Homo sapiens: one gene and its partners. The protein of the gene in region 3 purifies or fractionates together with the protein of the main gene of each other region. This does not show direct contact. Each region holds a gene or a part of one and is shown on either strand. Other genes may lie near its edges.

Region 1 (4,243 bases), on a different chromosome or scaffold from region 3:
GGAAACGGCAAAATAATAGGGGGAATAAGTGTATACAACTCTCCCTTGAGAGTGACTGTACATTAAAAATACAGTTAATTTCTAAAAATATTTTTTAACTTTAGGATTATGGATAACATATACTAAGATTCTCATGGAAGTTAGGAATATTTTAAATACATCCAGATATTTAATAATGTTCAGATGCTTTTAATTACAGAACCTCATAGAAATTCTTTCTCAGGGAGATTCTTCAAGCAATCACTATGTCAACAGACACAGGTGTTTCCCTTCCTTCATATGAGGAAGATCAGGGATCAAAACTCATTCGAAAAGCTAAAGAGGCACCATTCGTACCCGTTGGTAAGTTTGACTGACATTTTAGTAGTCTTGAATATGGTAGAGCCGTGATAATTTGTTCATTTAGCAATATCCTGAAAGAATGTATTTTCCATTTTTTTCTTATGTTGAAATATGCTGAGATTGGCATGATATAAATCTCATCATAAAGATTCTTCTGTATGTATTCAGACTTTTTTTTTCTTTTTGGAGACAGGGTCTCTTTCACCTAGACTGAAGTGCAGTGGCTTGATCATAGCTCACTGCCCCCATCCCTCGACCTCTCAGGTTCTTGATCCTCCCACCTCAGCCTCCTAAGTAGCTGGGACCACAGGTGTGCACCACCACGCCCAGCGAATTTTTGTAGTTTTGTATAGACACGGGGTTTTGCGATACTGCCTAGGCTAGTCTTGAACTCCTGGGCTCAAGCAATCCGCCTGCCCTCAGCCTAGTGCTAGGATTATAGGCGTGAGCTGCCACTCCAGCTGAGACTTCTTATTTTATTGAGTCTTATTTCAGTGCATAATGTTGTATTGGGGGACCCCAAGACCATCCTCAGGTTAGATGATTGGGCCAAGACTCATAAGACTCAAAAATGCTTGTTACAGTCATAGTTTATTACAGCAATGGGATATAGGTTAAAGTCAACAAAGACATATAGAATGAAGTGTAGGATAAACCAGACACAAAATTCTAGGTGTCCCCTTCCCAGGGAGTCCCACAGGGGGAGAGGGGGTGCATTTAATTCTTCAGTACTGATGTGATATGTGGCAATACATGCTAAGTCTTGCCATCTAGGGAAGCCCACCAAGCCTTGGTAACCAGGTTTTATTGAGGTGTCAGCTGTGACTGAAATTAGCTATTCAGTCTCCTATCCCCCAGAGGTCGGACTCGCAGGCATATTAAAATTCATTTAATATGCAGTTAAAACAGATGAAAGGTGAAATTTATAGTATATAAATTAATCTTAAGAAAAAGTTTAAAAATTTTTAATCTTACAGAGAATTTTAAAATTACCTTTAATGCCACCATTTAGATATAACTGTTGTTACCATTTTGATGTACATATTTCTCCAGTTGTTTTTTCTTTTTTTATCTTCACAAATTCAGGATCATACTAAGATGCATATATGTATTATAATTTTTATCTCATGTTTTTAACTATGTTATTCGAAACTCGACTTTTTTTTTTTTTTCCGAGAAGGAGTTTCACTCTTGTTGCCCAGGCTGGAGTGCAGTGGCGCGATATCGGCTCACTGCAACCTCCACCTCTTGGGTTCAAGCGATTCTTCTGCCTCAGCCTCCTGAGTAGCTAGAATTATAGGTGCCCGCCGCCACGCCAGCTAATTTCTTTGTATTTTTAGTAGAGATGGGGGTTTCATCATGTTGGCCAGGCTGGTCTCGAACTCCTGATCTCAGGTGATCCACCTGCCTCGGCCTCCCAAAGTGCTGGGATTACAGGTGTGAGCCACCGTGCCTGGCCTAAAACTCTACTTTTTTTTTTTTTGAAACGGAGTCTTGCTCTGTCGCCCAGGCTGGAGTGCAGTGGCAGGATCTTGGCTCACTGCAAGCTCCGCCTCCCGAGTTCACGCCATTCTCCTGCCTCAGCCTCCCGAGTAGCTGGGACTACAGGTGCTCGCCACCACGCCTGGCTAATTTTTTCTATCTTTTAGTAGAGACAGGGTTTCACCGTGTTAGCCAGGATGATCTCGATCTCCTGATCTTGTGATCCGCCCGCCTCGGCCTCCCAAAGTGCTGGAATTATAGGCGTGAGCCACCGCGCCCGGCCAAAACTCCACTTTTAAGAATGACTTAATTTATATGATATAAATTACTGTTGTATATAACATTATTATAATCCTCTTGGTAGAAATTTATGTGATTTCTAATTTTTCATTATTAACAATTAAACTACTGAGCATCCTTTTAGATGGCTCTCCAAGAAGTTAAAGGACTTTGAAGTCTCTTGAAGGAATTTTTCTTCTGACCATATAATTAATAAGTTAGTTGCAAAAGTACATAAAACAGAAAGGTACCATGTCCTATGATCCCGACTCTGAAAGACAACAGCAGTCTGCACAGTCTGTCAGTGTTTTCTTCTCTGTGTACTACCATAAACTATTATTTATAATTATTTTTAGATGAAATATTTTTCTTTAGCCTTGTTCATTATCTTTTTATAACAATGCATATAGGAACATTTATATTTTTAATAATTGAATCATTAATTTTGTAGATATACAATGTTTTGTAACAGTGATCTATAAAATTTTTTGGTTGTATATTCCCTCAGTAAAAAATAATTTGAGCACGTACTTCCTGCCAGTGTGTTGTGTGTTTACCTATTTTTAAGTCATTTATGACTTTTAAGTCATTTAAGTCATTATGAAATACGCAGAAAGACATTTCAAAAGGATAAGATACAAATATAAAATTTTCTGCTCTTTAATGGGTTGTCATTTATACATATCCCTTCTTGGGAGTACATAAACCCTACATTGATTTAACCATTGCTGTATTGACGACATAGGAGTTGTTCCCATTATGTTGATTTTACAAACTGTTGGAAGACTGTGTGTGTAAAAATTAAATATCCTTATATACTTAATTGTACCAAAACAATGATTTACACCAATAGGCTGTGATGGGCTGGTTTTCCCATACTCTCAGTAGCACTAGATATTATCATTCTTTGAGCATCTTTTCATATGTATTGGTCATTCAGGCTTCTCTTCTGTGAATTAGCTTTTTTGTTTTTGCTTTTGTTTCTGTTTTAACTAGGATGTCTTTTTCTAATTAAATTATAATTATGTATTTTAGGTATTAATGTTTTCTTAATATGTTGCAAGGCCTTCATGATCCTGGGATTACTTAGGTTCCTGTATTTCCTTATGTTGTGCATTTATCATTGAGATACTAATCTATCTGGAATTTATTTGTAGGTATGACATGAGGCAAAATCTAACTTATTTTCCGTATGGATACTTTAATTTTCTATCACAGTGATTTGGGTATCTGTTTTGCATTCTTTTTCCACTTATTTGAAATGTGAACTATGTCATATACTAAACATATGAGAGATTTGTTACTCAACTACTGTATGTATTTTGTTGCTTTGATCTGTCTGCCAGAAACTTAGTGGTATGTTTAGATACCTCATAAGCCAGTACACTTTCACTATTCTACCTTCTTAAAAAGAGCTTGCCTGTTTACTTTGAAATTAGCTTGTTAATTGCAGCTACTCAGCAGGCCAAGGCAGGAGCGTCACTTGAGCCCAGGAGTTCAGGGCTGTAGTGTATAATGATCATGCCTGCGAATACCCACTGAACTCTAGTCTGGGAAACATAGGAAGACGCCGTGTCTGAAAAAAAGAGAGAAAAGAAAAAGAAACTGGCTTGCCCAGTCCAAAACGGGAAAAATGTCTCATTTTTACATTTGGATTACATTGAATTTATAAATTTGGAGAGAATGGAAATTTTAGAATGTGGTGCATCTACTGATTTTCATTCAAACCTTTTGTGTCCTTAAATATGATTTTATTGTTTTCTCTAGGTCTAGAAATTTAATTTCTCTAGATATGCTTTTTAATGTATTCATCAAAGTAATCTTTTTTCTTATTGGTTCTAGTTGTTTTTCTTTCTTTCTTTCGAGACGGAGTCTTGCTCTGTCGCTCAGGCTGGAGTGCAGTGGCACAATCTCAGCTTACTGCAACCTCCGCCTCCCGGGTTCAAGCAATTCTTGTGCCTCAGCCTCCCGAGTAGCTGGTATTACAGGCGCCTGCCACCATACCTGGCTAATTTTTGTAGTTTTAGTAGAGACAGGGTTTTGCCATGTTGGCCAGGTTGGTCTCGAATTCCTGACCTCAAATGATCCACCTGCCTCAGCCTCCCAAAGTACTGGGATTACAGGCGTGAGCCACTGCACC
Region 2 (4,823 bases), on a different chromosome or scaffold from region 3:
CCTGCTTCCCCAACTGTAACTCTAATACTATTGCCCTCAGAGATTGCAGAGACCACAGAACCGAACTCCTTCCCACAAACCCCCGGATTTTTCTGTGGCAAAATCCCTTGTAGGAAATGAATTCTCTCTATATCTCAAAACAGCCTCACTTACCCAGTAGGCCCTGTAAGCACAGTGTCTCAGGTCCACAATACTTTTAGATGCCCAGGAAAATGTTTCCTTTTAAAATAAGAACAAAAAAGAAAAAAATTAGGTGTTGGTTAAAGAAAATGTTTAAATATATAATATTAAGATATTTATCTTTATGTCAGTGTTGGTATAAATGCGTGTTTATGAAAAAGGGACCCACCAAGGTGAAATGCCGTAGGACCCACAAATGTCATAATGCTGGCTGGCCTCAAAATGTCCTTCCTATTAAACTATTTTGAATGATTCCTAGGTATGCCAGATGCCAATTTTTCTTGGCCAGCCAGGGAACGTCTCATGTCTTTGGAAGAAATTATCTTTCTCTTACTGGATTCTTCTGAGAAAAGTGATTTGTTAAAAGTTTTGGTTATTTCAAATCAATATGTACTCAACTAGGACGTCTCCTCACCCACGTTAATTTTTTAAAGAGGAGGAAAGTAGGAGAAGATGAGCGCTTCATGTAAGGCTCTGCCAGCCTACGAGGAAATGCAATCCTCCAGGCTCGCCCGAGCGTGGGCTGCGGGCAGGGGACTGTGGGGCCGTTGTCTCGTTTTATTCCACGGCCGTGCAGCAGAGGGCGCGTGCCTCTCAGCACTCATGCTGCGCGCTCCCCTGCGCCTCTAGGATCGTATCCCTATTTGCCCCAAGGTCATAGCTCCTAACCCAGCTTGCCAGCCCCAGGCCGGGGACACCAGAGACTGAGCCCTTCGCGCTGGAGACCCCGGCGCGGGTGGGGCGGGAGGGCTCCGGGGCCAAGAGACAGGTCACAATGGGGACAGGGGACGAAAGGCGCCGGGGGTCCGGGTCCCGAGCAGTCCCCGCCGCCGCCAGACTCCGCAGCCGGGAGGGGGATGGGGTGCGCGTAGAGGCTCCGCGGCCCGGGTTGGACGGAGGAGCCCAGGAGCCACCGCAGCCGCCGCACGCCCAGAGCTCCGAGCTTCGCTGCCAGCCCAGGACACCGGGGCCCTGCCGTGGGCCGAGGGGAGCCGGGCGGCGGGAGAGGAGCCCCGGAGCCCCGGAGCCCCGGAGCCCCGCCGGGCGCCAGCCGAGAGGGCGTTTTCCCCGCCCCCGGAGACTCGCCCGCCCGGCCCGCCCCGCCCCGAGCGCGGGGAGTTCACCTCCGCCCGTCACCACCTCCCCTTGTCGCCTAGGTCCACCCGAGCCCCCTCCCCCGGGCCGCCCCCGAGCACGAAGTTGGCGGGAGCCTATAAAAGCTGGTGCCGGCGCGACCCGCGGACACACAGTGCAGGCGCCCAAGCCGCCGCCGCCAGATCGGTGCCGATTCCTGCCCTGCCCCGACCGCCAGCGCGACCATGTCCCATCACTGGGGGTACGGCAAACACAACGGTGAGTGCCGGCGACGGCCAGCGCGGGGGCGCCCCGATCCCCGATCCCCGATCCCCGATCCCCGAGCCCGGATGCCGGCCCGGGGCCCGCAGCGCCCGCACATGCTGTTTACCGCGGCCGCGGGGAGTGCTGGAGGCTCAGGTGCGCCCCGGGCGCTCGCTCCGCTCGCGGCTCCGCGGCGCCGGGGATGTCCCCCTTGCCCCAGCTGCGAGGCCACTGTGGAGGAATCCCCGCGTCCGCCGGAGGCGCGTAGGGCCCGAGGGAGGGGAGGCGCAGCCCTGGCCGCGGGACCCGAGGACAGTCCCTCCCGGGTCCCGACCTGGGGATCATTTTAACCGGACCTAGGAGGAGGCGGGAAAGGGTTGTAACGGAAAATTCTAGTTGTTGATCGCAGAGAAATTAAGAGACTCCCCTCCCCCCTCCCCCACCTTCCACCCCCACCCCACCCCTCCAGCTTCAGCACCACCTGTGGCTAAGGCGCTCAGCACGAACTGTCCCGGGGCATTTTCCAGTGCTGGTTTGAATCCATGGCTCTGATTTCCGAGTTTTCCCTTCATCTCTCGACTTCTAATGTTAGGGGGTCGGACATCAGGAATCGGGTTTTATCTTGGCCTCAGATCTGGTTCTTCGGAGCCAGCGGAGCAGAGGAGCATGCGTCTGGCGCACCTAGCGCATCTTTGGAGGGTGTGGGGCTTCCCAGGTAGTGGGGAACCCTGACGGTTAAAGGTGGGGTGGGCCCGGGCCTGGGCAGTGAGGAAAGGATCCAGACCTCCTTGAATGTCTTAAGTGAGCTTGCATATCCCAAAATCGCAACCACAAGCCCTGACATTAGTGTCTGCCCGATTTCAGTTGCTGAATTTCAGTAAAACGACCTTAAAATAGCTAATATTTATATAGCACTCAGTGATCTAAGAGCTTTACATATATCGATTCTAATTCTTACAGCGACATCTATGAGGTAGATTTCTAATTATCCCATATTACAAATGTGGAAACTGAGGCACAGATTACGTGTTTTCCCAAAATTTAGCCCATTGTTAAGTGATGCTTCTAAAATTGGAACTGAGCAGATTGGCTCCGGAATGATTGCTCTTCTCTAGGGGTCTGGGTGTACCTTTCCCCACAATGGGGGATTCACATGTCTTCTTTCCCCCAGGACCTGAGCACTGGCATAAGGACTTCCCCATTGCCAAGGGAGAGCGCCAGTCCCCTGTTGACATCGACACTCATACAGCCAAGTATGACCCTTCCCTGAAGCCCCTGTCTGTTTCCTATGATCAAGCAACTTCCCTGAGGATCCTCAACAATGGTCATGCTTTCAACGTGGAGTTTGATGACTCTCAGGACAAAGCAGGTCAGTGTTTAGAAAATAACTTGTGTCTTTTAGCCAGTAGCTGTTTTCCGAGCTTAATGGAAGGAGCCAGGAACAGTGGCAGGAACCCTCTTAATAATACAGTTTGTCTCAGGACTCAAGGATGCCACCCTGATCATTTTCATTAGGTCTCAGATTCTGAGAAGTAGGCTAATTAGTTTGAAGTGTCCCGGGGCCGTTTCTTCCCTGTAAAACCCTTGGCTTCTATGAAGGCCATTGAATAACTGCGATATGCCTGTGAAAAATCACAAAAGGTGCAAAGTCCCCTCGCAATAAAGATCAGTCACGATGAGATTTGCACCAATTGAACTTTTAAGATTGTAAAATATTTTGTCTTGCAGAGCTGATGCATATCCATTAAAAAGTATATCTTAGTGAGCCTTATCTTCAAGTTAGCAGCGAGAAGAGTAACAAAAACGTGCCAATTTAAAATACTGAAATTCTGGGAAAATGTTTTACTTATGAGTATTTCTTAGTATTGGGCTAGTGTGATAAAGATGGCAGCATGTTTTGATATCTACTCAGAAATTCATTTCACAAACGAAGATGTTTTAGAGTTGGTGAACATACCTGGCCCATTACTGACAAAACCAATTACCGTATTTATTGGTAATAGAGCTGTTTACAGGATGCTCACTGTAAAAAAAAAAAAAAAAAGAAAGAGAAAGAAGAAAAAAAATCCTGCTTTTTTTTTTTTATCTCTCTCTCTTTTGAAACAAGAGAACAATCCCATTCACACATAGTAGCTGCCTTCTTTGCTAAGCAGTTAATTTAATTGCCAGTGCCCTATTTTCCTGAGTGCTTTCCTCTGAAGGTCATAGAATGAAATGGTGCTGCAAACACATTTTGTTTGGTGGTGGTGTGGGAGTGAGGGGAGTGGTGGAACAAAATGAGAAAGTTTTGGAGTAGTGACCTACGGTACTAATATATTATATAATATGTAATTATAACCATTTAGTCAGGTAGACTATTCTTTGTCAGCAGCTATCCTATATAGTCAACTTGGTTTTGAAAAAAGAATTCTTCCCTCCTTTCAACTTTAAAAAAATTTGCAAACACCTGGCTTTCTGAAATGGTGATTCTGGAAGACAATTTGATGGGGGATAATGTGGAGATCATCTGAGAAATGTTTTCAACCTACCTGTGCCTGTCTGTGTGCACCCCTCCCCAGTACACACATACATACATACATACACACACACACACACACACACACACTTACAATCATACTCACACTTTCTGGCATAGTATGATGATTTATTAGAATCAAGTAAAGGTTGTACATTGAAAACAGTTCGGTGATTCTGCTACATTGCTTTCCCAAGCATTCCTCTCACTCCAAAGGAACAGTGCTCATATAATTAAATTAAACAATTTTTTTCTTGTAAAGAATACTGTATATTTATAACAAGACAAGGCCAAAGGTCTCAAGGTATTACACATACAGAAAGAATACTATAACATTTCACGTCTAGTCATTTACAAACCAAAAGAAGTGAGCTACTTTAGTCTGTAGCTGTACTTTTTTAAAGAGCCACAATGATGTCATTGTTTTCAATGGATGTAATGTCTGCCAAATTATGTATCTCATTGGATGCTACATAGAAATTGGATAGTTTAAGTCTTTTTTGGAGCACTGAAGAAACAAATCTCCAACAAATGAAAGCAGATGAGGTTCCTAATAGTCCTTAAAAAATGGATAGTGAAATAAATTATTCTAGTAATATGTATTACTGGAAAGTGGATTTGAACACATGGTCTGGTGGCTATCAGCATAGACTGGGGTCAGAGAGACCTGGATTTGAGTTCTAGAGCTGCCGGCAACTAGCTCAGAGACTTTGGGAGTAATACTGTCTAGGTTTTAATTGTTTTTAACTGTAAAGTTGGAGTAACAATAGTGTCTGCCACAGTGGAAGGA
Region 3 (4,977 bases):
CACATTAATTTTAGCCTAAATAATTATTTAAATTATTTAACTATTTAAATTATTTAACTATTTAAATAATTATTTTACTAAGAAGAATCCACGAAATGAAAATGAGCACGTTCACTAATTTTCATATTGCCTGACCATCTCATAGCACCATGGTCACAGACTGCAAAGCCTCTCACCGGAACAAGACAGACCAGCAAGGAAGTGTAGGTTCAACAGCACATGAGAATCATAACTTTTAGTGCCAGAGTGTCTGAACCAGAGAGGAGGGAAAATGAGAGGCCAAGAGTTGTCTCCATTTTCTTCTCTTCACAGTATCCTGCATAGTGGCACAAATCGAACTGGAAAGCCCAAGCTAACAACACCGCCCTGGGCGAACCGCCTGTCTCCACCGGCTCCTCTGGGCAGGAGGCTCCAGCCTGGGGGTGCCTGACAGCTCTCCTTCCCCGGCGCCTGTATTATACATGTAACATTTATATTTCTATCCACACAGCGTTCATTCAGCCATCCATTCAATCACCCAGGCATATTTACACGGATGGAACACATTCGCGGAGAGATGTGTGTGTTTGAGTTCCAATCACTGCAGCCCGTATTGGCGCGGCGCTTTGTCTCGCTTTGGGTCACCACCACAGGAGCAACGATTTCGGGGACGGCACACGCCTGTGTGACCGCTTCCCACTCCACTTGGGTTCCGTGAGCGCGCGGAGCCGGAGGAGTCAGGGACGTGAGGATGCCCTACTTCCCGCAGCATCCGGATGGCAGGGTCTGCGTCGGAAGGCCCGGGAGGGCGACGCCCTCCACTGCTGCCGCGGGGTGGGTGCGCCAGGCCTGGGTGTGGCCTCACGGGAGCGAGTTTCTCTCCAGCCGCCTGGCCCACCGCTTTGGAACAGTGAAGCTCGAGTTGGGGTCTCCTGCACGCCAAGGGGAGAAATGTTTGTTTCTGACAACACAAGCAAAATTCTCTCTCCTGCACGCCAAGGGGAGAAATGTTTGTTTCTAACAACACAAGCAAAATTCTCTCTCTCTCTCCCTCTCTCTCTCTCTTCTCTCCTCTCTCTTTCTCCCTCCTCCTCCTTTCTTTCTTTCTCTTTTTCTTTCTTTCTTTCTTTCTTCCTCCTCCTCCTCTCTCTCTCTCTATCTCTCTCTCCACCCCCCCCCCCTCATATTTGGTTGTTTCCCCTCTAAGGGGCCACTTTCAATATCTGCCTGTGAGCCCAGCTGTCTGGCCCTATGTAGCATTGGGGAGACAGTAGACTTAACCCAGCGAAGTTTTCTTCTGTTTGCTCTTGCTGTGCCCAAGTTTCCTCTGGACTTGTCTTCCAGCGTCGGGGTGGGGGCTGGGGGAAGTAGGCAACCTAGCTCTGCCTGGTTGCTCCCTGGAAGCCAAGTCGAAGTGAACAAGTCAGTCCCAGGCCCGGAAATAGAATACAAACCCTCTTTTTGTCCGGTGCTAACAGAGTCCAGCAGTCAGAACTCCCTCGCGTCTCACGCTGGACCTGACCCGGGGCGCCGCCAAGTGCGCAACGCACAGTCACAGTTGGTGACTAATTAAGGACTGCCGCCCCTCTCCTTCACCTGCTACAAACTCAGAGCCCTGACTTCTCCAGAAGTACCTACCACTTGGAGGTGGCTCTCCTTCCCCGCCCCCTGCCCCAGTCCCACACCGCAGCAGCGCCTCAGCACCGCGACTTGCCGGAGCACCGCGAGTGGCGCGCGGGTCCCGCCTCCCCCGCGCGCCGTGACTCCCTGCGCACCGCTGGTACTCTCGCCACGCCGCCGCCCGGCACTGCAGCACCAGGGGGAGGAGGCAGGCGGAGGAGAGGAGGAGGACCGCAGCGTGCAAGCCGGGAGCCACTTTCCCGCCCCTCCTCTCGCCGCTGACACGCTCAGAGGAGTCACCACTCCGCGCGCTGCAGGCGAGAGTGGCAGACGGAGGCAGCCCGGGGAAGCGAGCCGGAGCGGCGCCCGCACTGAGGCGGCTGCAGTGCTGACACCACTCAGGGCAAGGGTGTCCGACGGCTGGAGCGGTGAGTGGGGGAGGTGAAGCGGGCATCCGCGGGGAGACTTTCCCCCGCTGCTGGATTTCTCTTCCCGACTGGTGGCCGGGCGCTGCAGCCTGGGGAAGTTTTTGCAGCCTTTCGGAAGCGCAACTTTGCCCCGCCTGCCCCCGGGGAAGCGGCTGCAGGTGCCCGCTGCTTTGTAGGCGCCTTTGTTGGAGAGGGACCAGGAAAGTAGGGGTAAAATAGATGCAGTGACCCCAGGGTTCGCTAGGGTAGGTCTGGGGACTGGGTCGCACTTTATCTGGGATTCCCAGAGGAGGTGGGTGGGCAGCAGCGGGGATGCAGGGGCCGCATCTGCAGCGACCGCCACGCTCTTTTTTGCTTGTGTGGTTTGACCGGCAGGGATAGGCAGATTCAAATCTAGCAGCCTAGAGCCCCGGGCTGGGTACCTGGACCTATACCTTCATAGCTGCCTTAGGCTCAACTTTTCGGCGGGGATCCCTCTGCAGACGTGCAGGTGGCGGGAGAGCAGAGGTAGCCGCAGTAAGTGCTGAGAGAGCCTGAAAGAAACACCATGAATTTTCAAACTCTCCCACATACATTCCCGAAGCGCCTGTCTGGCGTCTAAGAGAGAGCAAGAGAGGGCTGGAGAGCAGGGGAGCCCGCGGGGCTGAGGCTCTTTGTCAGCGCCTGCACTTCCTACGTTACAACGCCTTCATTCAGCAAAAACCTTTTGGGCGCCTGCTGTGCGCCAGGCCAGGCGAAGCAGACCCGAGGCTGTGAAGCTCAGAGGGGAGAGGGACCAATCGCAGTAAATAAGCTACCGAGGTAATCTTAGATGGCGATGAGGGCAGCAAAAGCCATCAGCCGACCCTCTGACCCTTTCTCTTAGTGGGCTTTTCCCCTTCCGCCTGGGTTCTAGAACTGGGAAGACTTTTCTCCAGAGCGTCGCGGGGAGCGCCCCGGGCTGGGCCCACGGGGACTGCGGAATACGGGGATGAACTTGGCTTGGGGCAGCCAGCACCCCACGGCAGATGAACAATCGGGAGCAGATCTGTGGGCGTGCGGGGACCTTAGGCGGCGCGCGGGGGCGGGGGGAGGGGCTGAGCCACGGGGGCTAGAGGTGCCGCCTGGACGGCCTGAGCTGGGGGCGCTCGCGTCACCTTCTACGTGTGCGAGTGATGCAAATGCAGACCCGCGAGGGGCGGGCGGGGGTGGCGGGCGGGGGCAGGCGACGGAGTCTCCGTCTGGGAGCGCGCGTGTGTGCGTCAAAAGCTCTGGGTTGATGGATGCCCCGCGGCGCGCCTGGCGCGGAGAGCGGCGACCCGGCGGGGCAGAGGGGGGCGGGAGGACTGCGGCGGCGCGGGGCGGCGAGGAAAGCCCCGCACGGCCTGGGCTGGCGGGCAGGCGGCTCCGCAGTGCGCCGCAGTGCCGGGAAGGAGCCGCAGCTACCGGGCGCTCCCCGGGGGACCGAGGAGATGAGGCGTCTTTTAAGGCTCATGAGAGCCTTAAGGAGATGAGACCGGGATGCCGTGATGGTCTCCTCTCCCGCTGAACCTAATCCCTTCATACTTAGCTGACTGCTAGCGCGGTAGCTTCCGTTTAATTCTTATCCTTAATTCTGAAGAATGTGGCATTAATCTCTCAGGCGTTCACTCATTTTCCATGGCAAGTTCCGAAAGGCCTCGTGCTCGTGGGAAGTTTTCATGTGAACGCCTAGGTGTTGAGGTTCGTGAGGTTCTGTAGTGCCAACCCGTTGCGCCACCATTCTGCAGGATTTTTGGCAGGAGGCCTGGCCTCTAAGTGAGGTTTAAGAATGTCTTACAAAACAATATGCCGCATTCCTCTTTCATGGCATAAAAATACGCGTTAAAAAACACTACTGATAACGCATTCTCTGGTGGAAAATAATAAATCAAATCCACGATCCATTTTATTCTTTTTTTTAAAGACCACTTTCTGGAAACCCAGTGACAAAGTTTTTCTACTGGCTTTACTGAAGGAGCCCAAATCTGCAGTATGTAGGCAAAATGAATGAAAGGGGACGGGGTTGGGAAAAAAGAAAGAAAGGAAGGGAGGGAGGAAGAAAAGCAATTATCAAGGAACCCAGAGACACAGATGCTAGTCACCATTTCCCCAAATATTGTGTTATGTCACCTTGGGCAGGTTACTCACCCTCTTGGGTTCATCTTCCACCTCTGAGAATTGTGAAAAATAGCTTATACTAGCTCTTATGTACCTTACAGGGTTGTTTTGAAGACAAAAGAGATAATCTCAGAGAGCTTTGGCTTTGGAAATACAAATTTTCCATGAATGGAAAATATTAGCAAACAAAGCCCCTACACACACACACACACACACACACACACACACAGAATTTTCTTTTAAAAAATTCTAGAGACTTTTCCCAGCATTGTTTTTTTAATGAAATTTGGCCCTCAATGTGAGCAAATGCAGACAGCAGACTTTTCCTAACAGTCTAATATGTAATCCAATGCCATTAGCTACTGACTGTCTGGAGAAGGAAAAAAAGAAGCTCTGGATCACATCTGAGTGTTTTGTTCATGTAGTGGAGAAATCAGCTTTATTTTTCATGACCCAATGACAGTGAAAGTAGCTTCTCTGATCTGAGCAGCAGACTGGCCTAACAGCTTGTAGTAAAACTCCTATTCATTATTAACCCTATCATATTCCTTAAGTGTGGAAATGCTTCAAATAATAGGATCCAGTTCCCAGTCTCCAGGAGATTACGGCAAAGGCATCATAATGTGCAATATATCACGTGACGACAAGTACCAGAAAACCCATTTCCTATAATTAGGAGTGTTATCTCTTATTCTTAAGCAAACTTGATGACATATTGTATGAATAAAAGCATGTGATTTGTCAAAATGGCTCCTTAACCAGCCCACTGTTGTTATTCATATTACTCCAGATGACGGTAGATTTCTGTGAGTAGTGAAAGCAAAATGCCTCT
Region 4 (4,243 bases), on a different chromosome or scaffold from region 3:
CTGTCGGGTCAAGCTGATTATTCCGTGTTGTGATGGACAGTTCAATGGTGGACAGCTGCACATCTTTCCAGACCTCCGGGCTCACCTCTTGGGAAAGGGCTGTGGGAATCCATTAGATACAGGTCAGTTTCTTCCATTAACATTTCACCACCCACCACGGACGGCTAGCTGCTAGCTGCTCAGCTCAGCTTCTCAACCTTTCTGCTGACTCTGCCTTCATTTTATTTATTTCATGCTTCTTATACATAGAGGTAAAAATGGCATCTCTGTGCCTAAAACATCACTACCAAAAGCAGTCACGTTAACAGAAAGACTGTGCACAGAGACTGCTATGCCCATTGATGGCACATTGCTTGGGCCTGCTCTGGTGGCACACAGAAGGATGAATTCAGTGATCCCTGAGAGGCTTCTCCTGCTCTAGTTAAGTCTCTAAAACTGATTTTGGAGGTCTACTTTAGGGCACTTCTAAACTGACCAGGGCCCTCCAATCTTTAGTCGCCACATTGCTCACCATCCTGTGGTTGTGCCCAGTAGGACGCAAGCCTTCGTAATATTCTCCTGTACAAAGAAGGCCTTTGTACAGGGGTCTCCTCTGGTTCATTGGGAGGTCTCTCTGTAGGTCCCGTGTATGAGATAGAGGCTTGATGAGTCTGAGGCCACTCCTTTTAATGTGGAGAGAGAAAAATTTTGTTATGCATGTACAATTCCACTCTGGGAGTTTCTCTCTGCAAAAGTTATTTATTTGTCTACCTATACCTGCTAGAAAGTGAACTAATAATCTCCTCTCACTGGATGGAATGCTAGTTTGGAGCATGGAATCCTCAAGCTTTCTTTTCCTCTTAAAGCTACATCTTAAAAACCATGAATTCAGCAAGTACTGCCTCCATTGCTCCCCCTAAAATTGGCTAACCACCACCATTTACATTTGTCCAAAAAGAGGGTGAATGAACATAGGGTCATCCGTAATAAATTTATCTTTGGCTTACAGATGGTGATGCAAAATGAAACTGAGGAAATCCAGTTGCATCAAGTACCTACCTCACTTCTGGAATCTTATTCCACACACAGGCCAGAATGGTTTAGCCCAGGCTCACAATCCAGCCCAAGGCTTCTCACTTCTGCTTCAAAGCCCATCACCCTCACACTCTAATTTTTTTTGTCTTCTATGTCCTGGCATCCCAAGTCCAGTGTCACCCTGGATCACATCCTGACCGCATGAATGAATAAAACCATACCCCAGCCTCTCAGCCCTTGACATCACCTCTGATTCACCACATCCACCCATTTCCATGGCCACATCCTGGCCCCTAATGTCACCCAGAACTATTCCACTTTGGAAATCTAAAACCCTGAGATCCTGCTCTCTAATCACATCCCATATTCTTCTGGTTGATTCTTTTGTGCCCATTGTGTCTCTTAGGGTGAAATGCTTCCCTGTTCTCAAGTTTCCAGGTGGTGAATTACAAAGCAGTAGCAACACTGGCTTCTCTCACTCCACTGCTTACTCACTCCTCCCCAAGTCTAGAAGGACCAATGCATGGATCCAGCCCTTTCCTTTCTCTCTGACAGCAGCTGTCCTTGTCTCAAACGGTCACTGCTTCTAATTTTCATGTGGTGAAAATTAGCTTCTTGTGGTGGTCTCTGCCCTGAAGGAGCTGTTTCAATGGACACCTTTGTTCACAGTATTAGGAGATCAGATAGAGACCACGTATCTGTGCTCTGTCCTCCACTCCTGCTGACATTTATAAAGATGACGTTTTGATCTTCATCTGCCTAGTTCCTGCATTTGTTTTCATACCTTGGTTCAAACTAAAAAGAGGAAGAGAGGGGTTTTATTGTGGGCCCCTGAAGACCTAACTGCACCAAGTTTTCAATCACATTGAGGATTCTACTCCCTGACCACTCATTTTCCCCTCAGTGCCAAACTGATAGTCAATTACTTTCAAGTGCTTTCTTTTTCCACTTACTCTTGGCTTTCCTGTGTCTTTATTCTTCTACAATATGTCCTAAAAAGCCCCAGTTCTGGATCAGCCTTGTCATTAAGTTCCTGTACTCTTACATCATGGCTCAGTATTACTAGAGAAGAAAATGATACTCCTGCTGAGTATTAATACAGGGAAAAGCAGTCACCCAAAGGAGCATTCATGTCTACAAATTGTTAGCCTCAGGTCTTCAGTGCTACTTGATAATCCTAAGCCTCCTCCTACATTCATCTTTCTTCAGGATACCCCATACCACTACTCACCACCTTTCTGACAGGATCACTTTGCTTCCTACACTTCAGTGAGAATATCAGGGACATCAGTGAGAATACCTTAACTTTCTCTAATCTCATTTTCATCTGGACCTACCCTTTACTCCTCTTCTGTATCAATGAAAAAAGGTGCCCCTTGTCCTGTCCAGGGACAATCCAGTACTCTGGATCCCACGCCCTTCTACCCGCTCTTGGATTTTGCCAATTCAGTCATGCTTTCTGTCTCCCTTCTCACCTCCTCACATTCTTTTCTTTTTCTTCAGTCTAGAAACACATGGATATTCTCCACTTTTAAAAATTCCATATTGACCCCATGTTTCTCTCAGCTTTTGCCTTCCCTATCTCCTTCTCTTCAAAGTCAGGTTTCTTGAAGGAGTAGCGTGTCCTTGCTGTCTCCACTTCTTTACATCACTTTTATTTCTTGACTTTCTTCAGTCTGGCTTCAGCCACCACACTTTGGAGGCTGCCCAGCTTTTGGAGGCTGCCAAATTCGATGGATACTCTCTTGTCTGTATATTTAAAGTCTTTGCTTTTGCTTCTCGAAACTCTTACTTTTTTCTTGAAATTCTCTCTTCTATTGGCTTCTATGTTAGTATTCTCTCCTGCATTTTCTCTTAGCACTTCTCAGTCATTTTTGGTGGTTCTTTAAATGTTTATGTCCCTTAGGGATATTCCTGGCCATCTGTACTCAATGGTAATTTCACCCAACCCATGGTTTCAACACCGCTCACACACTTATGACATTTGAATCTGTTTCTTTAGTCCAGACCTCTCTGCTGAATTCCGACCTAAATCACAATTGTATCTTTGCTTGTCTGTACCACAGGTATGTTAAACTCTACATAGATTAAACTGAAAATTTCATCTCTCTTCACAAACTTGATTTACTCTAGTATTACCAACATCAGTGGAAAACTCCAGTTACCAAACTCTAGTCCCTCATACCAGAAATCTGATAATCCTACATTCTTCTGACTTTTGAGGTTCTAACTTAAGAGTTCTTTAATCCATCTTCTATTGTCAATACTGTTACCTCCTTAGTCTATACGTCACTTCCCACCTGACTACTTTAACAACCTTCTATCTAATGTCCTTGCCTTGAGCTACCTACATCCTATCTGTTTTTCTGTTTAGAAAAAAACAATTTTTCTAAAATGCAAATCTGCTCATTTCATGCCTCTGCTCAAGACTCAATAACTCCCCATTGCTTTAAGGATAAAAGTCAAATTGCACATCAAAACCCGCCATAACCTGCCCTTACCTAACCCACTGGCTTCACTTCCTGCCATTTTACTGCATTAATCATAATTAAGGGCCATGTCACACCACTGTGACTTCACACAGCCTTTAAATGTTTCAAAATTTAGTGTGTCTCCTCTGCTGGGAAGATTTTCTGACCCTCATTAGATTTAGATGCCCCTCCTCTCTGCTCCCTTCTTAATCTTTCTATCTTTCTCTCACAGCACTTGCCAAACTGCTGATTTACTTACACTTCCCTCCCAGCATCTGAATACTTCTTGAGGGCAGGAAACCTGTCTCATTTGACTTTGTATCCCAAGCATATGTCAACTATTGTTTGCTGAATAAATAGTGGCAACAGTTTATATTCCATTTAAATATGTAGCTACTCTATTTCTTCCTAAATGCACTCACAACTCCACCAATGAAACTCGAGGAATAACCGATTTTACTAATCCAGTTTGCCCTTGGTATATAAAGACCTTGCCCTGCAAAGTTCATTTTTAAAATCACATACATTTACTTCTAGTAGTTCAGTGATTTTAGGGTTTTACATTTAATTTTTTAATCCAGCCAGAATTTTTTTAAAAGGTAAAGGAAGCTATGTTTTCCAAATGTTTTGCAAGGAACATGTATTACTTTTATAATTAGAAAAACATTCAATAACTCTGAATATTAACATTGGAACCAACCTTCTCACTACATTCAAACCCCATCTGCCAATTTTCAGATTGGCCAAACTATCAATAT
Region 5 (4,243 bases), on a different chromosome or scaffold from region 3:
TAGTATTCCTTTTAATTTTTGGTGATTTCATGAAAAAGATTTAACTGTATTTCTGTAGACGGTGAGAAACCAAAAGATATATTCAGACAAAGAACTAATATGACAAGATATGTTTTTAAGAAGATATCACTGCTAACAGTATGGAAATTGAATGAGTGTAAGAGGAGACTGGAGACCAAGACATTTACCCTCTTTTTTTTTTTTAACTTCTTTGAGGTTTGGACAAAGAAACCTGTTTGATCCCAGCTGTGCAGGAGCCGAAGTTTCCACAGAACTACAACCTTGTAACAGAGAACCTTGCTCTGACAGAGTACACCTTGTACTTGGGATTTCACAGGTAACTCCTCTGATGTCATTAGGAAAAAACAGTTTAGTTGTGTTGATAACTAGAAGGTAGAAATTGAGTCTTTGGCCAGGCACAGTAGCTCACATCTTTAATCTCAGGATTTTGGGAGGCCAAGGCAGAAGGATTGCTTGAGGCCAGAAGTTTAAGACCACCAACCTGGGCAAGAAAGTGAGACCCCCATCTCTACCAAAAAAAAAAAATTAGCCAGGCATGGTGGCATATGCTTGTGGTCTTAGCTGCTTCAGAGGCTGAGGCAGGAGGATTGCTCTAGCCGAAGAGTTGGAGGCCACAGTGAGCTATGATTGTGCAACTGTACTCCATCCTGGGTGACAGAGTGATAACCTGTTTCTTAAAAAAAAAAGAGAGGAAGAGTCTTACAGATATAATCTGAGCTTATTCTAAAGGTTCACATTAGAATCTAATAGAAAAGGGGCATTGTATGAATTTACTTGTGTTTCATGAATCAGCTTTGTCCAGATTCCTTAAATTTGTTTTTAACTTTTATCGTTGTCGTTGTTGTTGAAATGGATTTTCGCTCTTGTCACCTTGGCTGGAGTACAGTGGCACATTCTCTGCTCACTGCAACCTCCGCCTCCTGGGTTCAAGCAATTCTTCTGCCTCATCCTCCCAAGTAGCTGGGATTACAGGCATGCACCACCATGCCCAGCTGATTTTGTATTTTTTTAGTAGAGATGGGGTTTCGCTGTGTTGGCCAGGCTGGTCTCGAACTCCTGACCTCAGGTGATCCACCACCTTGGCCTCCCAAAGTGCTGGGATTACAGGCATGAGCCACTGTGCCTGGCCTGTTTTTTAACTTTTGACCTGTTAAACTTTAAAAATTAAATCACTGTCTTCCTATTGTGATCTGGGAAAGTGGAATTGTTTTCATTTTATATTGCACTTTCTGCTCTTAAATTTTCATTACTGGCCGGGTGTGGTGGCTCATGCCTGTAATCCTTTGCACTTTGGGAGGCCGAGGCAGGCAGATCACTTGAGCCCAGGAGTTTGAGACCAGCCTGGGCAACATGGCAAAACCCCGTCTCTACAAAATATACAAAAATTAGCTGGGCATGGTGGCGTGTGCCTGTAGTGTCAGCTACTCACGAGGCTGAGGTGGGAGGATCTCTTGAGCCTGGGATGTTGAGACTGCAGTGAGCCGAGATTGCGCCACTGCACTCCAGCCTGGGCAACATAGTGAAACCCTGTCTCAAAAAAAAAAAAAAAAATTTCATTACTACTCCTGGTGATAAAAGATGAAGTTCAGCCGGGCGCAGTGGCTCATGCCTATAATCCCAGCACTTTGGGAGGCTGAGGCAGGCAGATCACAAGGTCAGGAGATCAAGACCGTCCTAGCTAACATGGTGAAACCCCGTCTCTACTAAAAATACAAAAAATTAGCCCAGCTTGGTGGTACGCGCCTGTAGTCCCAGCTACTCGGGAGGTTGAAGAAGGAGAATCGCTTGAACCTGGGAGGCGGAGGTTGCAGTGAGCCGAGATGGTGTCACTGCACTCCAGCCTAGGCGACAGGGCGAGAATCTGTCTCAAAAAAAAAAATTAATTAAAAAAAAGAAAAAGACCAAGTTCTACTCTACAGATAGAGACAAAAGTGGCAAATATTAAGGAAATGTTTATAAGGGAGCTAATGAGATCAATAGGACCACAAAAGACATTAGATAAAGAAGATTCTAGAAATGTTAAGATTTTAGAACTAGAATGTATGACTTCCAAAAACAGTTCTGGTTCTGGCTATTCATTATTCTGTAATTTGTTTTCCTCTGATTTAGCTGATTATGACAGGTATAAGTAGAGGAAGAAAACAGCAACTCAGTCATAGAAAGGGACACTAAGAATAGCAATTTTTAATGCCTTCTCAAGATACCTGAATTGATGCAGAGCATTTTTCAAAACTACTCAGTCAACACATTGCCGGAAGAAGGAAATTATGTCTTTAGAGAGAAATCTCCATCATAGACATTTTAAATAAGACAGTAGATAAAAGTTCAGCATGTGCTTAAGCTGCTCAGCTGCCTAGATTCAAACAAAAAATGAATATCATCTAGTTTCCCAATATTAGCTAGCTCAAGACATTATCTACAGGGCCAAAGGAAATGATTTTGGACTATTATCCATAACTTTGAATTATGTGTCTTCCTTTCAGTAGAGAATATTAGGCTGACCTTTTCTGAAGAATAATTTAATTTAATATTGAACAACAGAGAGCTGGAAGCTGCTCTTAGATTGCATCTCAGGTGGCTACTAGTTTATATGTGGTCATTACTAATCTAGAGTCCCTTTTCACCAGCTTAGTTTTCTACTAACCAAAGAAAGACTATCCATATAACCCCATCAAAGTATGATCATTGCATCAAAGTATGATCATTGCCCTTGTGTGATGTAAAACTATCCTGCTGGCCTTCTTGTACTTTGCCTAATAATTATTTTATGTAATAACAACCCATTCTACACCCTACTCAACCAAGCTGCCTTTCTTTGGATAGTGCATTTCAACTGAAGGCTGCTATTTGCAATTAGCTTCAATTATGTTGAATACTTGGCAGCATTTTCCCATTGCTGTGCACCCTGCCTGTGTCCTGTCAAAAACTTTTGTGAGTGCCTTCTGTGTCATTGCAACTGCAACTCCCTACTATCCTTAAAGAGAAGGCTAGATAAATAATTGAGGATTTGTTTTTTTGTGACTTTCTGTTTTCCCTGACCCAGTCTCTTCTGCTTTCTTGGGGGCAGGTTGCATGATCAGATGGTAAAAATCAACCAAAATCTGCATCGGCTGCAGGTTGCCTGGCGGGATGCTCAGCAAAGTTCTAGCCCTGCTGCTGACAATCTTCGTGAGCAGTTTGAACGACTGATGACCATCTATCTTTCTACCAAGACTGCCATGACAGAGCCACAAATGCTACAAAACTGCCTAAACTTGCAGGTGTCCATGGCTGTTCTACTGGTTCAACTGGCCATAGGCAATGAGGGCTCACAGCCAATAGAGCTAACCTTTCCTTTGCCAGATGGCTACAGCTCTTTGGCTTATGTGCCAGGTAAGCAGGCTCTCCCTTGGGAATGTCCTGTTTATAGCCTTCTGAGTTTAAGTGGGTCACTTTGGAAGTTTAATCCTCAAAATACCCTTTCTTCGTTATCATTCAGTTGTTTTTGGAGAAACAACTCAAACTTAGATAATATCTACTGGTCAAAGTATTAGGGGACTAACAGTTTGTTCCCTCAACCTTGTGTCCCCCTGCTATGCATATCAGAAAATCATCTTCAAAGGATTAAGTGTAATCAGAGTTTTCAGAGCTGTTAGTTTCTATCATTAATATTTGTTCAACTTACACATTCATCTAACTTTCCCTGTCCTTTTTGTAGAAAAAAAATTAGCTCCTGCTGGTTAACTCAGAAGGGAAAGAGTGTGTGTGTGTGTGTGCGTGTGTGTGTGTGTGTGTGTGTGTGTGTGTGTGTGTGTGTGTCAGTGAGTCATTGAGGGGTGGGCAGGTGTTGTCAATCTAATCAGGTTATGTGTTCTTAACCATTGTATTGGCCATATCATGCTGAGTAACAGATTACCCCAAAACATAGCAGCTTAAAACTACAGACTGGGTATGATGGTGCACGCCTGTAATCCCAGCACTTTGGGAGGCCGAAACAGGATGATTACTTGAGCCCAGGAGTTCAAGATTGGCCTGGGCAACATAGAGAGACCCTATCTCTACAAAAAATAAAAAATTAGCCAGGCATGGTGGTGCACACTTGTAGTTCCAGCTACTCAGGAGGCTGAAGTGAGAGAATCGCTTGAGCCCAGGAAGTTGAGGCCACAGTGAGCCATAATTGCACTACTGTACTCCAGCCTGGGTGACAGCAGGACCCTGTCTCAGAAAATAAATTAATTAATTA
Region 6 (4,243 bases), on a different chromosome or scaffold from region 3:
ACGTTGGGTTATGGAAGACTAGTTTCTTCCATAACCCTGAATTGGAGACCTTAATGCTAAGTGTAGATTATTGAGGTTTGTTAGTGAGGAAAAGAATAAGAGTTCAGAAGCCTTTGTTATCAGATAGCGAAATCAGGGCCTAGTGAGGAGCACAGGTCGACTACATAATGGAGTCCATTGGCGAACCCTATTGCAATTTGGTCCAACTATATCTTCTGGTGAAGGAAATTAATGATGTAAGAAAATGCAAGAGGCTCAACTTCTCTTCCAAAAATCTTCTGGCTTCTGAACTCTTCCTCTGCCTCTCTTTAAATAAATAACACAGAATTTCAAGTGGTAGGAGACTTATTAAGCCAGTCACCAAGCTTGGTCTGTCAGCCTGTCTTCTAACACCTCAAAGATCTTGTGCCCTGTGCTGTCCCTCCCTTGTAATTATGAAAAGTTCTTTGGTTTCTGGGGTGAATTCTACCCATGTATAATGAGGAATTCTCTCATAACCTTTTTTGTCTTGTCTGTCATCTCTGTTCATCCCTTCCTATAACCTCTAGGTAAAAAGAAAAGAAAAAAAGAAATTTCGAGATATTTTCAACATTGTTAGAGTTTGGGCTAAAATGAGCAAGGAGAAAAAAACCACCAAGAACATTTCCTGGGGCATGTTCCAGTTTTGAGGGGTGATATATCTGCCAGATAGGGGGTATCTGACCCAGTCTTCTTTTCAGCTGGTCTCTGGGGGGAGCTGAGAACTCGCTTGCTACCTCACATCCTTTTCCCCAGACTTTTTATCTCCTATGCATCCCTTTGCTTTCTATAGCTGGTGTTTCTTCCCCAAAATGGCGTTCCCATGCTTACCTTTCTCACATTCTAGACAATGATGGACAAAGACGCATGCAAGACTCAGACCCGGGGAATGGTGTGGTGCTAATCTCAACACCTGACATTCACAGCAAGCATGGCCCAGCCCAACTGCATGTCTATCTCAAACCGCAGAAAGGCTTTAATACTGGAAAAAAAGAATTCAAGACTACAGGCAGCTCCCCTCTGTACCCCAACTCATTTAAAATAGGAGGAATCACTTTTTGCCTTACTTAACGCTTTTTTCTGAGCACAGGGATGGGCACCTGCACCCCAGAAGGTGTGAGCTGTCTCTCTGCCAGGAGCTAAGGTTCATTAGGGGATTGGATGGTTTATCACTTCTTTCTTTCTGAGTTTACTTTTAGTAACTTTTATTGATGGCTACCTTTCATGTCCCTGTCTAAAGAGACTTTCTCTTTCATACGTCTTAAATCTCATCAATGAAATCCAGTGAAACAGCACCATTTCTTAGTATCATTAAATAACTAGAAAGTATCAAGTATTGCTCTCTGCTGCTTTATATCATTAACATATTAATAATACCAAGAAGGAAATACTTTGAATAAGTGTCAGATTCTGATCCAGTATTGGACACCTGTGATATTGGACACCTGTGAGGCTGGGATAATTACTTTTGAATTACACCTCTTCTCTAGTTTCTGGACCTTGCTCTGTCACTTTAACACAGGGTGATCAAACCTGAATGAGGATCAGAACTCACCCAGGCACATACTAAAGCAAGATTCCTAAACCTCAGTTCCAGGGGTAATTCTGACATCACCCGTCCAGCATAGTCAGCTGAAATTATAAATCTAAGAAACAGTTACATCAAGATTCTGCTGTGTCATTTAATTCTGAAACTCCCAGTATTCTACCCTTCTTCATCACTGCATATTACCCCACTCTTCCATCCCAAATTGGCTATCCTTTCAGCCCACCAACTTAGCGGCAGCACTAGGGATTCATTATAAGGTAAATCTGGTTTACATAAAGACCTGAAGGAGGCCTGTATTTGAAGCTCACACTTGGTATTGGTATCTCTCATTTTTACTGAGCCAGTGTGGAATACCACTGTATGTACTCATATAAGCCCTTGACTTTTACTGCTCATCAGGATTGGAATATTACTCTAGCAGTCTTCACACATAGGCAAGTTACAGTCCTTTTAAAAAGTATCTCATTTCCCTATAATGGAACCTAATAGCCAACTTTTTCATAGAAATTGCTAGAAGAGTTTGATCAACTATAAATGATAAAGTGTTTATAAGCATAGTCAGTGTGACACAGAAACCAATCTTAAAATTGAATTTAATGTTTTATCATATCAGATTAAATATTTTCTCCATGTCTTATTTTTACTGCAACAAGTTAGAAAGTGGGAACACTTTGATTAATGTCTTAAAATTTGTGGGCCCTCATTTGGATAAAGGCAGCAATCCTAAGGACTTTTTTTTTTTTTTTAACATAATCTGAGAATTTCTCTGTAGAGCAGAGACTTTCAAACCTTTTGGCTGTAACCCACAGTAAAAAACGCATTTATATCAAACCTTAGAATATGTTTAATGAACAATACTTACCATTCTGATGCTTTTTATTGTTTCAGTTTTTAAAATATGCCAGTTGCAACCCACTAAATTGATATCTACCAATGGGTTGCAACCCTTAGCTTGAAAAAAACACCCTCACAGAGGAACTGGTATTTCTTGAATACCTTCTGTTTGCCAGGCACTTCACCAGGCATTTTACAAGTAAGGAAACTGGGCTTCAGAGAAAATAATTTGCAGAGGTTTACTCAACTACAAAGGGGTGAAGCCAGGAATGTTAACTAGGTCTGTTGAGCTACAAAAACTTTTATGTCTCTCAGACTATACAGCCTCTATACAAAATTGAGATGGGGGTTGGGGGCAGGGGCTCATGCCTGCAATCCCAGCACTTAGGGAGGCAGAGGCCAGAGGATCACTTGAGCCCAGGAGTTTGAGACCAGCCTGGGCAACATAGTGAGACTCTTGTCTGTATGAAAAAAATTAAGAATTAGCTGGGTGTGGCATAGCACACACCTGTGGTCCCAGCTACATGGGAAGCTGAAGTGGGAGGATCACTTGAACTCAGGAGCAGCCTTGGTGACAGAACAAGACCCTCTCTCAAAAAAATATTTAAAAAAAGGTGGGTCATCCATTCTCCTTTACCAAACAGGCTTTGAAATGACACATTCCATTCATTTGCATCTTTTTAAAAAACTTCTGATTCCTTACTGAGTGTCCAGCAGCCTCAAAGTTTTTAATGGTAGCTGATGCAGACATAAACAGTGCTCAATTTGGCCCTTAAACTATAAAATCAAGAAAGAGTATTTCAATCCCATCCACCTGCCTGCAAGATTTCTTAATGTTCACTAGTTATAACCATTGTTTAAACAGTGCTTTTTGTGTAATTTAAAAATAAACTTTAATGCTTTTTAAAACAAATTTATCATAATTCATAGATCAAATGATTATCCTTTAAAATGATACCCTTGGGAAATCATGTACTTACTGTAGTGATGCTAGTATTAATATTACTTAGACCAATTTTGAAACTGTTCTTTCAGAATTGCCTCCAAAGACATTTTGCAGATCATCCCAGAAAAGGGGGTATGATGGTGCTGTGTAGAACTGACCAGAGTTCCTGGAGGATTTTGAGGTTATACTGAAACTGAGTGCTGTACAGGGAGAATTGCATGAGTCCAGAAACTTCCTTCTGTGGGCTGCCTGCCTTCCTGCCCTCCCTTAAGTGCTCTAAGATTTTTGTACAGGAGTAAGAATCAAATACTGGTAACATCAATCACAAGAAGTTGAGGAAACCTGTAATATAGCTAGATAATATACAACGTTTGTCTTCCATCAGAGTGCAGAAACCAAACCATGCTTTGTGTTAACCTTAAATATGAAAGGTGTTTCTCAGGGTCCCCTTTGTCCTTCGTTGCTGCCATATGAAATCTTACAAGGAAGGATGAGGAAAAGCCTGGGGGGAGGTTCTCCTCGGAAATGAGGTGGTTTTTTTTGTTATTAAGTAGAACGTGGCTGTGGTTCACAGGTACTTAACGAATGTTAGATGATGTTCTTAAGTAATCAGAGGCCTAATAAAAGGCAGGGGAGTTTCTCTTCTAGCCTAAATTAATATTAAAAGTTCAGGGGTATTTTTTGTTTTTAAATTAATACTTTATTGTTTTTAACAGGTGGTTCTCATAATTTACATTCATTAATTTGATGCCCTTTTACAAAGAAACTTCTTAGGTATTATAAACCATCAATGTAAAGGATCCACATGGTATGTATCCACATTGCTACTCTCAAATAGAAATGGGAGATAAGAAATATATCTGTGCAATATTAAATTGAAAAAAAAAAACCCATAA
Region 7 (4,243 bases), on a different chromosome or scaffold from region 3:
TTGATTATATTTATTTAGTAATCTAGGTGAGGTGAGGGTGTGGTGAAATGGGCATGCTGATATGGAGTATGAACCTAGATTTTAAAAAATGTATGTCTACAGAAAATTTCTCTGCATTTCTCTCACTCCTAACATACACACACTCATGTTATATTCTGTTAATAGTGATTGGTTTTTGTGGTGGAATTATGATGACTTTGCAAAATTTTCTTCACTTTCTACATTTTCTAAAATGGATATGTATTACTCCTTAAAGATGACATGTAGGTTTTATCTTATATACCAGCTCTGATCCATTGTGAGTAGCTGCTAAGAGGCAATGTTGTAAAGGTTCTGAGACAAACTGGGTTAGCAGGAAAGAGTATAATTGAATCTAATTGTCATGATAGGTGGCTTGGAGAGGTGAAATCCACAAGTCAAGATCTTCTTATTTTAGAAAATGAAGTTGGACAATAATTCATTTAAATGGTGTAATGTAGCTTTTATCAGAAAATGAAGAGTACTCAGTTGACAATTTCAACATCTATTCTCTAAAAACAAAGTAATATACATGAGTAAAAAATAGAAATACTATAGAACTTTAAAGATTACCACTATAATTTTTACTGACTTACATATTTGAAAAATATTTAGGTAGGTTGGTGTGTGTTTAATCTGTTATCAGGTTGTCTTTTGCAATTACTTTGGTTGTTTAAAGGTTGTGTCATAGTTGTCATTCCTCAGAGTGCCTAAATCTTCATTTGAAAAGTTTTCTTTCATTTAACATTTATGTTTATAGTAGTTGAATTTTTTTAAAACAATAACTTTGATTTTAGTTACACGATGTATTTTATTTCAAAATGGACTTTTAATGCATGACTACTCCCTATTATTAAAACAAGCAAAAATTTCATTGATGAGAAACACTGAAATTGTTTTTTAAGATGTTTTGTGATTGGCCAGGATATATAGATGCATTTAAATTGCTAAAATTAAACTCTTATGAGAAACTCATTCTTGCCTTTATGTTTGTTTTAAACTGTTTCTCGCCTTTTTTTTTTTCAGCCTTCAAAACCTCTTACATTCCAGTAGAAAACTCTCTCTGCAAGTCCTTAACTTTGTTCACTCATTCCAGGTAACAAAAACCAAAAAGTCCAAATGGTACTTGTACTGAGCTTTAAGTATGCACAACACTTCTGTGTTTGTTTTTGAGTCACCACAGCAGCAAGATATGAAATAAACATTAATTTTATTGTACAAATGAAGACATTGAGATTCAAGAAGTTAATGGACTTGCACATTTCACTCGCCAGGTCTTCGGAGACCAAAGCTTGATCTCTTTGTTCTGTGCCAGTGCTTTATTCAACAGAAATGTGTTAAGTGTCTTTTATGGGCTGTGTGCCATGCTAGGTGTTAGTTTTTGGTTATAGCGCACTTCCCAATAACTAAAGCGATTCTCCACTGCTGGGATGGGCTGTCTGTTGTGGCAGCGAAGGCCAGTGCTCTGGACTTCTTGTTTTTCCCCCATCCCCAAGGAAAGAAAGAATATTCTAGACTTGATTTATAGGTAAACTTTTAAAATAGAATATTTCTGTTCAGAATATCTAATTCAACGTTATGAAATCAATATTTTGGAGTTTTACTTCATTCATTCAGTTGGTAAATGCTTGACCCTGACCTATGCCAGATTCTTTGCTGAGTGCTGTGGAAACAGTGATGTGTAAGATACTAATGGAACTTAGAGAATGTTGTGGGAGACAATAATCAGATAAATATTAAGATATATAAGTTCTAAAAGATTTTAAAAAGTACTTTGAAGAAGCCAACTATGATGAAATCTGCAGGTAGACCTAATTTCAATAGGTGCAGGATAATATAAGCTGAAGCCAAAAAGTTGGAAAAGAATATTCCGGCAGAGCTTAGGTCTGTACTTCCTGTGTCTGGGAAATGTCCAGTGAACAAAGAAACAAATGAAGCCCAGTGTGGCAGAAACTTCATGAAAGAGGGGTAGAAGCAAGAGGTAAGGTTGAAGAAGAGGGCCGGAGCACGGTGTGCAGGGCCTTCTGGCATATGTTAGAGAACTAGTATTTTACGTTGAGTGCAAAGAGAAATGATTAAAGACTTTTAAACAGGGGAGAGAGGTTATTTCTGAAGGACTATTTTATAAAAATAGGCAAAAATGGAAATTTTATAAGGATGCAATAAATGGAAAAATTTCAAAATTCTGTCAATACTGGCCTGTCTGTTGTGGCAGTGAAGGCCTTGGCCATAGTGAATTAATAAATTAAACTAATTTGGGATATATTTTGGAGATAGGTTGATAAAACTTGATGATGAATTAAATGTGAGGAAAAGATTAGGGCTGTGGAGGGAAGGGAGGGGAGGGATCATGAATGATTCTTATGTTTTTTGATTAGCTGGATGTGTGAAATAGAGAAGACTGGGGAGGAAGAGGGGAGGGAAAATTTGAGAGTTCAATGATGGGCATACTGAGTATAGAGTGCATGGGGAAGCATCTGAAATGAAGTGTCAGATAGGTGGATGTTTGAGCATGGAGTCCTGGGGGGAGGTCTGTGCGGAATATATGAATCTGAGAAGCGTGGAGTAGGTGGATTATTCTGGTGCTTAGTGTTTTGTAAGGTTTTTTTTGTTTGTTTGTTTTGTTTTTTCCCCGAGATGGAGTCTGGCTGTGTTGCCCAGGCTGGAGTGCAGTGGCACGATCTCGGCTCACTGCAACCTTTGCCTCCTGGGTTCAAGCCATTCTCCTGCCTCAGCCTCTTGAGTAACTGGTATCACAGGCATGTGCCACCACACCCAGCTAATTTTTTTGTATTTTTAGTAGGAAGAGGTTTCACCATGTTGGCCAGGCTCGTTTTGAACTCCTGATCTCAAGTGATTCACCCGCCTCAGCCTCCCAGAGTGCTGGGATTACAGGCGCACAAGCCACTGCACCTGGCCTTTGTAAGTTTTTTTTTTTTTTTAGAGATTTTTCTTCTGTTAGGTAATACTTTGGGGTTAGGTTAGGTCTTGTAAAAATGAACTTTTGCTTTTCCCACAGTCTCGTAGCCTCTTATTTCTATTTAAAAGGACTTACTACAGTTTAACGTTGTTAGTCATTTTTGCACATATTAATACCTGTCATTGATTGCTTTGGGCTCACAGTGTAGATCTTTGCATCTCCTGTACTGCTTTGCAATCCATAAACACTTCTCAGGTAATCAAGGTCTCTCTTTCTCATTAGTTATATTAAGTGGTTTTGGTAAAGTGTTGAATATCATTTCTCTTGTTTCTTGATCTTTTAGGAAGGTGCTTCAATATTGGATATTCACACAGAGCCCAGTTTTTCAAGTTTGCTTTCACAGTCATCGTGTGCTGACATGGGTGTTCCACTTCCTGCAAAAAACTTAATATTTAAAGATGGTGTCTTATCAGAATGGAGTGGACGGTCACCTTCCTCACTTCTTATTGCTAATCTCCATTTGCAATAATTTGGTTACACCATTTGTTGCTCACACTTTCTGCCTTTTTTCTTTCTTAACGTTAGCTTTATAGTGTCAGCCACTAAAAAGCATCCTGCTGCTGCAGTGCAATTCTTGCTTAACTAATATTAAAAGTTGGGGAACATATTCATGTTTTCTGAAGTTTTGCTCATTATTGCACATCTTATTGCGACAAAGTGCTTTTTAGCAGCCAGCACTGTATTTTTTACCTTGAGACAATCTGCATTTCTTTTATAAAACTAAGTATATACTTTATAGGCTTTATGATGACTGTTATGTTTATAAGCAGTCACTATGAAAATTGCAATGGTAATTTTATATGTTAGTTTATCAAACATAAATCTTGTTTAATTTTATATTTTGTTACCTATACTTTGGGGGATCAAGGGAAGAGATGGAACTCTTCCTCTGAAAAGGCTTCTTGGTACTTAAAGTAGTAAAACTATAAAACAATAAACATCCAGTATTGAGAGATGATATGATAGGGCATTATGAATTCCTATGGGTGTCTGTAAATTATGTATGTCAGTTGGACATTGTAGAAGGTATGTAAATCAGCATAGTTGTGTATAACTTAACCTTGATTTATAAGGTCTTAAGATTATGACTATTCATTGACATCTCATGAGAAGCTTTAGAAGACTTTCTATTTTTAAACACCATTTATATGTGGACTTCTGTTGTCACTGACTTTGGGCTTTATATTTTCATAGAGTCTTTATGGAAAAAATAGAATTTATTTTCCACTCTTGTAGCTATAGCTG

What was found.
Region 1: the proteins of SV2C (region 3) and HIGD1A purify together in Homo sapiens (affinity purification with mass spectrometry; one large-scale study listed by BioGRID and IntAct). This does not show direct contact.
Region 2: the proteins of SV2C (region 3) and CA2 purify together in Homo sapiens (affinity purification with mass spectrometry; one large-scale study listed by BioGRID and IntAct). This does not show direct contact.
Region 4: the proteins of SV2C (region 3) and AGK purify together in Homo sapiens (affinity purification with mass spectrometry; one large-scale study listed by BioGRID and IntAct). This does not show direct contact.
Region 5: the proteins of SV2C (region 3) and UBE4A purify together in Homo sapiens (affinity purification with mass spectrometry; 2 studies listed by BioGRID and IntAct, with this or other methods). This does not show direct contact.
Region 6: the proteins of SV2C (region 3) and STX17 purify together in Homo sapiens (affinity purification with mass spectrometry; one large-scale study listed by BioGRID and IntAct). This does not show direct contact.
Region 7: the proteins of SV2C (region 3) and FAM91A1 purify together in Homo sapiens (affinity purification with mass spectrometry; one large-scale study listed by BioGRID and IntAct). This does not show direct contact.

What each region holds. Positions count from the first base shown.
Region 1 is NC_000003.12:42,790,256-42,794,498, reverse strand, and holds part of HIGD1A (HIG1 domain family member 1A, mitochondrial), read left to right. Parts: intron 1-199; exon of another isoform or gene 200-223; coding exon of another isoform or gene 224-245; coding exon 246-342; intron 343-4,243. UniProt on the Homo sapiens protein: Proposed subunit of cytochrome c oxidase (COX, complex IV), which is the terminal component of the mitochondrial respiratory chain that catalyzes the reduction of oxygen to water. May play a role in the assembly of respiratory supercomplexes.
Region 2 is NC_000008.11:85,462,583-85,467,405, forward strand, and holds the start of CA2 (carbonic anhydrase 2), read left to right. Parts: upstream 1-1,424; 5' UTR 1,425-1,499; coding exon 1,500-1,533; intron 1,534-1,645; exon of another isoform or gene 1,646-1,751; intron 1,752-1,999; exon of another isoform or gene 2,000-2,333; intron 2,334-2,689; coding exon 2,690-2,887; intron 2,888-4,823. UniProt on the Homo sapiens protein: Catalyzes the reversible hydration of carbon dioxide. Can also hydrate cyanamide to urea. Stimulates the chloride-bicarbonate exchange activity of SLC26A6. Essential for bone resorption and osteoclast differentiation.
Region 3 is NC_000005.10:76,081,486-76,086,462, forward strand, and holds the start of SV2C (synaptic vesicle glycoprotein 2C), read left to right. Parts: upstream 1-1,897; 5' UTR 1,898-2,027; intron 2,028-2,730; exon of another isoform or gene 2,731-2,828; intron 2,829-4,977. UniProt on the Homo sapiens protein: Plays a role in the control of regulated secretion in neural and endocrine cells, enhancing selectively low-frequency neurotransmission.
Region 4 is NC_000007.14:141,637,667-141,641,909, reverse strand, and holds part of AGK (acylglycerol kinase, mitochondrial isoform 1 precursor), read right to left. Parts: intron 663-4,243; coding exon 512-662; intron 100-511; coding exon 2-99; intron 1-1. UniProt on the Homo sapiens protein: Lipid kinase that can phosphorylate both monoacylglycerol and diacylglycerol to form lysophosphatidic acid (LPA) and phosphatidic acid (PA), respectively. Does not phosphorylate sphingosine. Phosphorylates ceramide.
Region 5 is NC_000011.10:118,376,358-118,380,600, forward strand, and holds part of UBE4A (ubiquitin conjugation factor E4 A), read left to right. Parts: intron 1-216; coding exon 217-337; intron 338-3,088; coding exon 3,089-3,393; intron 3,394-4,243.
Region 6 is NC_000009.12:99,968,991-99,973,233, forward strand, and holds part of STX17 (syntaxin-17), read left to right. Parts: 3' UTR 1-4,243. UniProt on the Homo sapiens protein: SNAREs, soluble N-ethylmaleimide-sensitive factor-attachment protein receptors, are essential proteins for fusion of cellular membranes.
Region 7 is NC_000008.11:123,809,238-123,813,480, forward strand, and holds part of FAM91A1 (protein FAM91A1), read left to right. Parts: intron 1-1,044; coding exon 1,045-1,114; coding exon of another isoform or gene 1,115-1,153; exon of another isoform or gene 1,154-1,424; intron 1,425-3,281; coding exon 3,282-3,467; 3' UTR 3,468-4,243. UniProt on the Homo sapiens protein: As component of the WDR11 complex acts together with TBC1D23 to facilitate the golgin-mediated capture of vesicles generated using AP-1.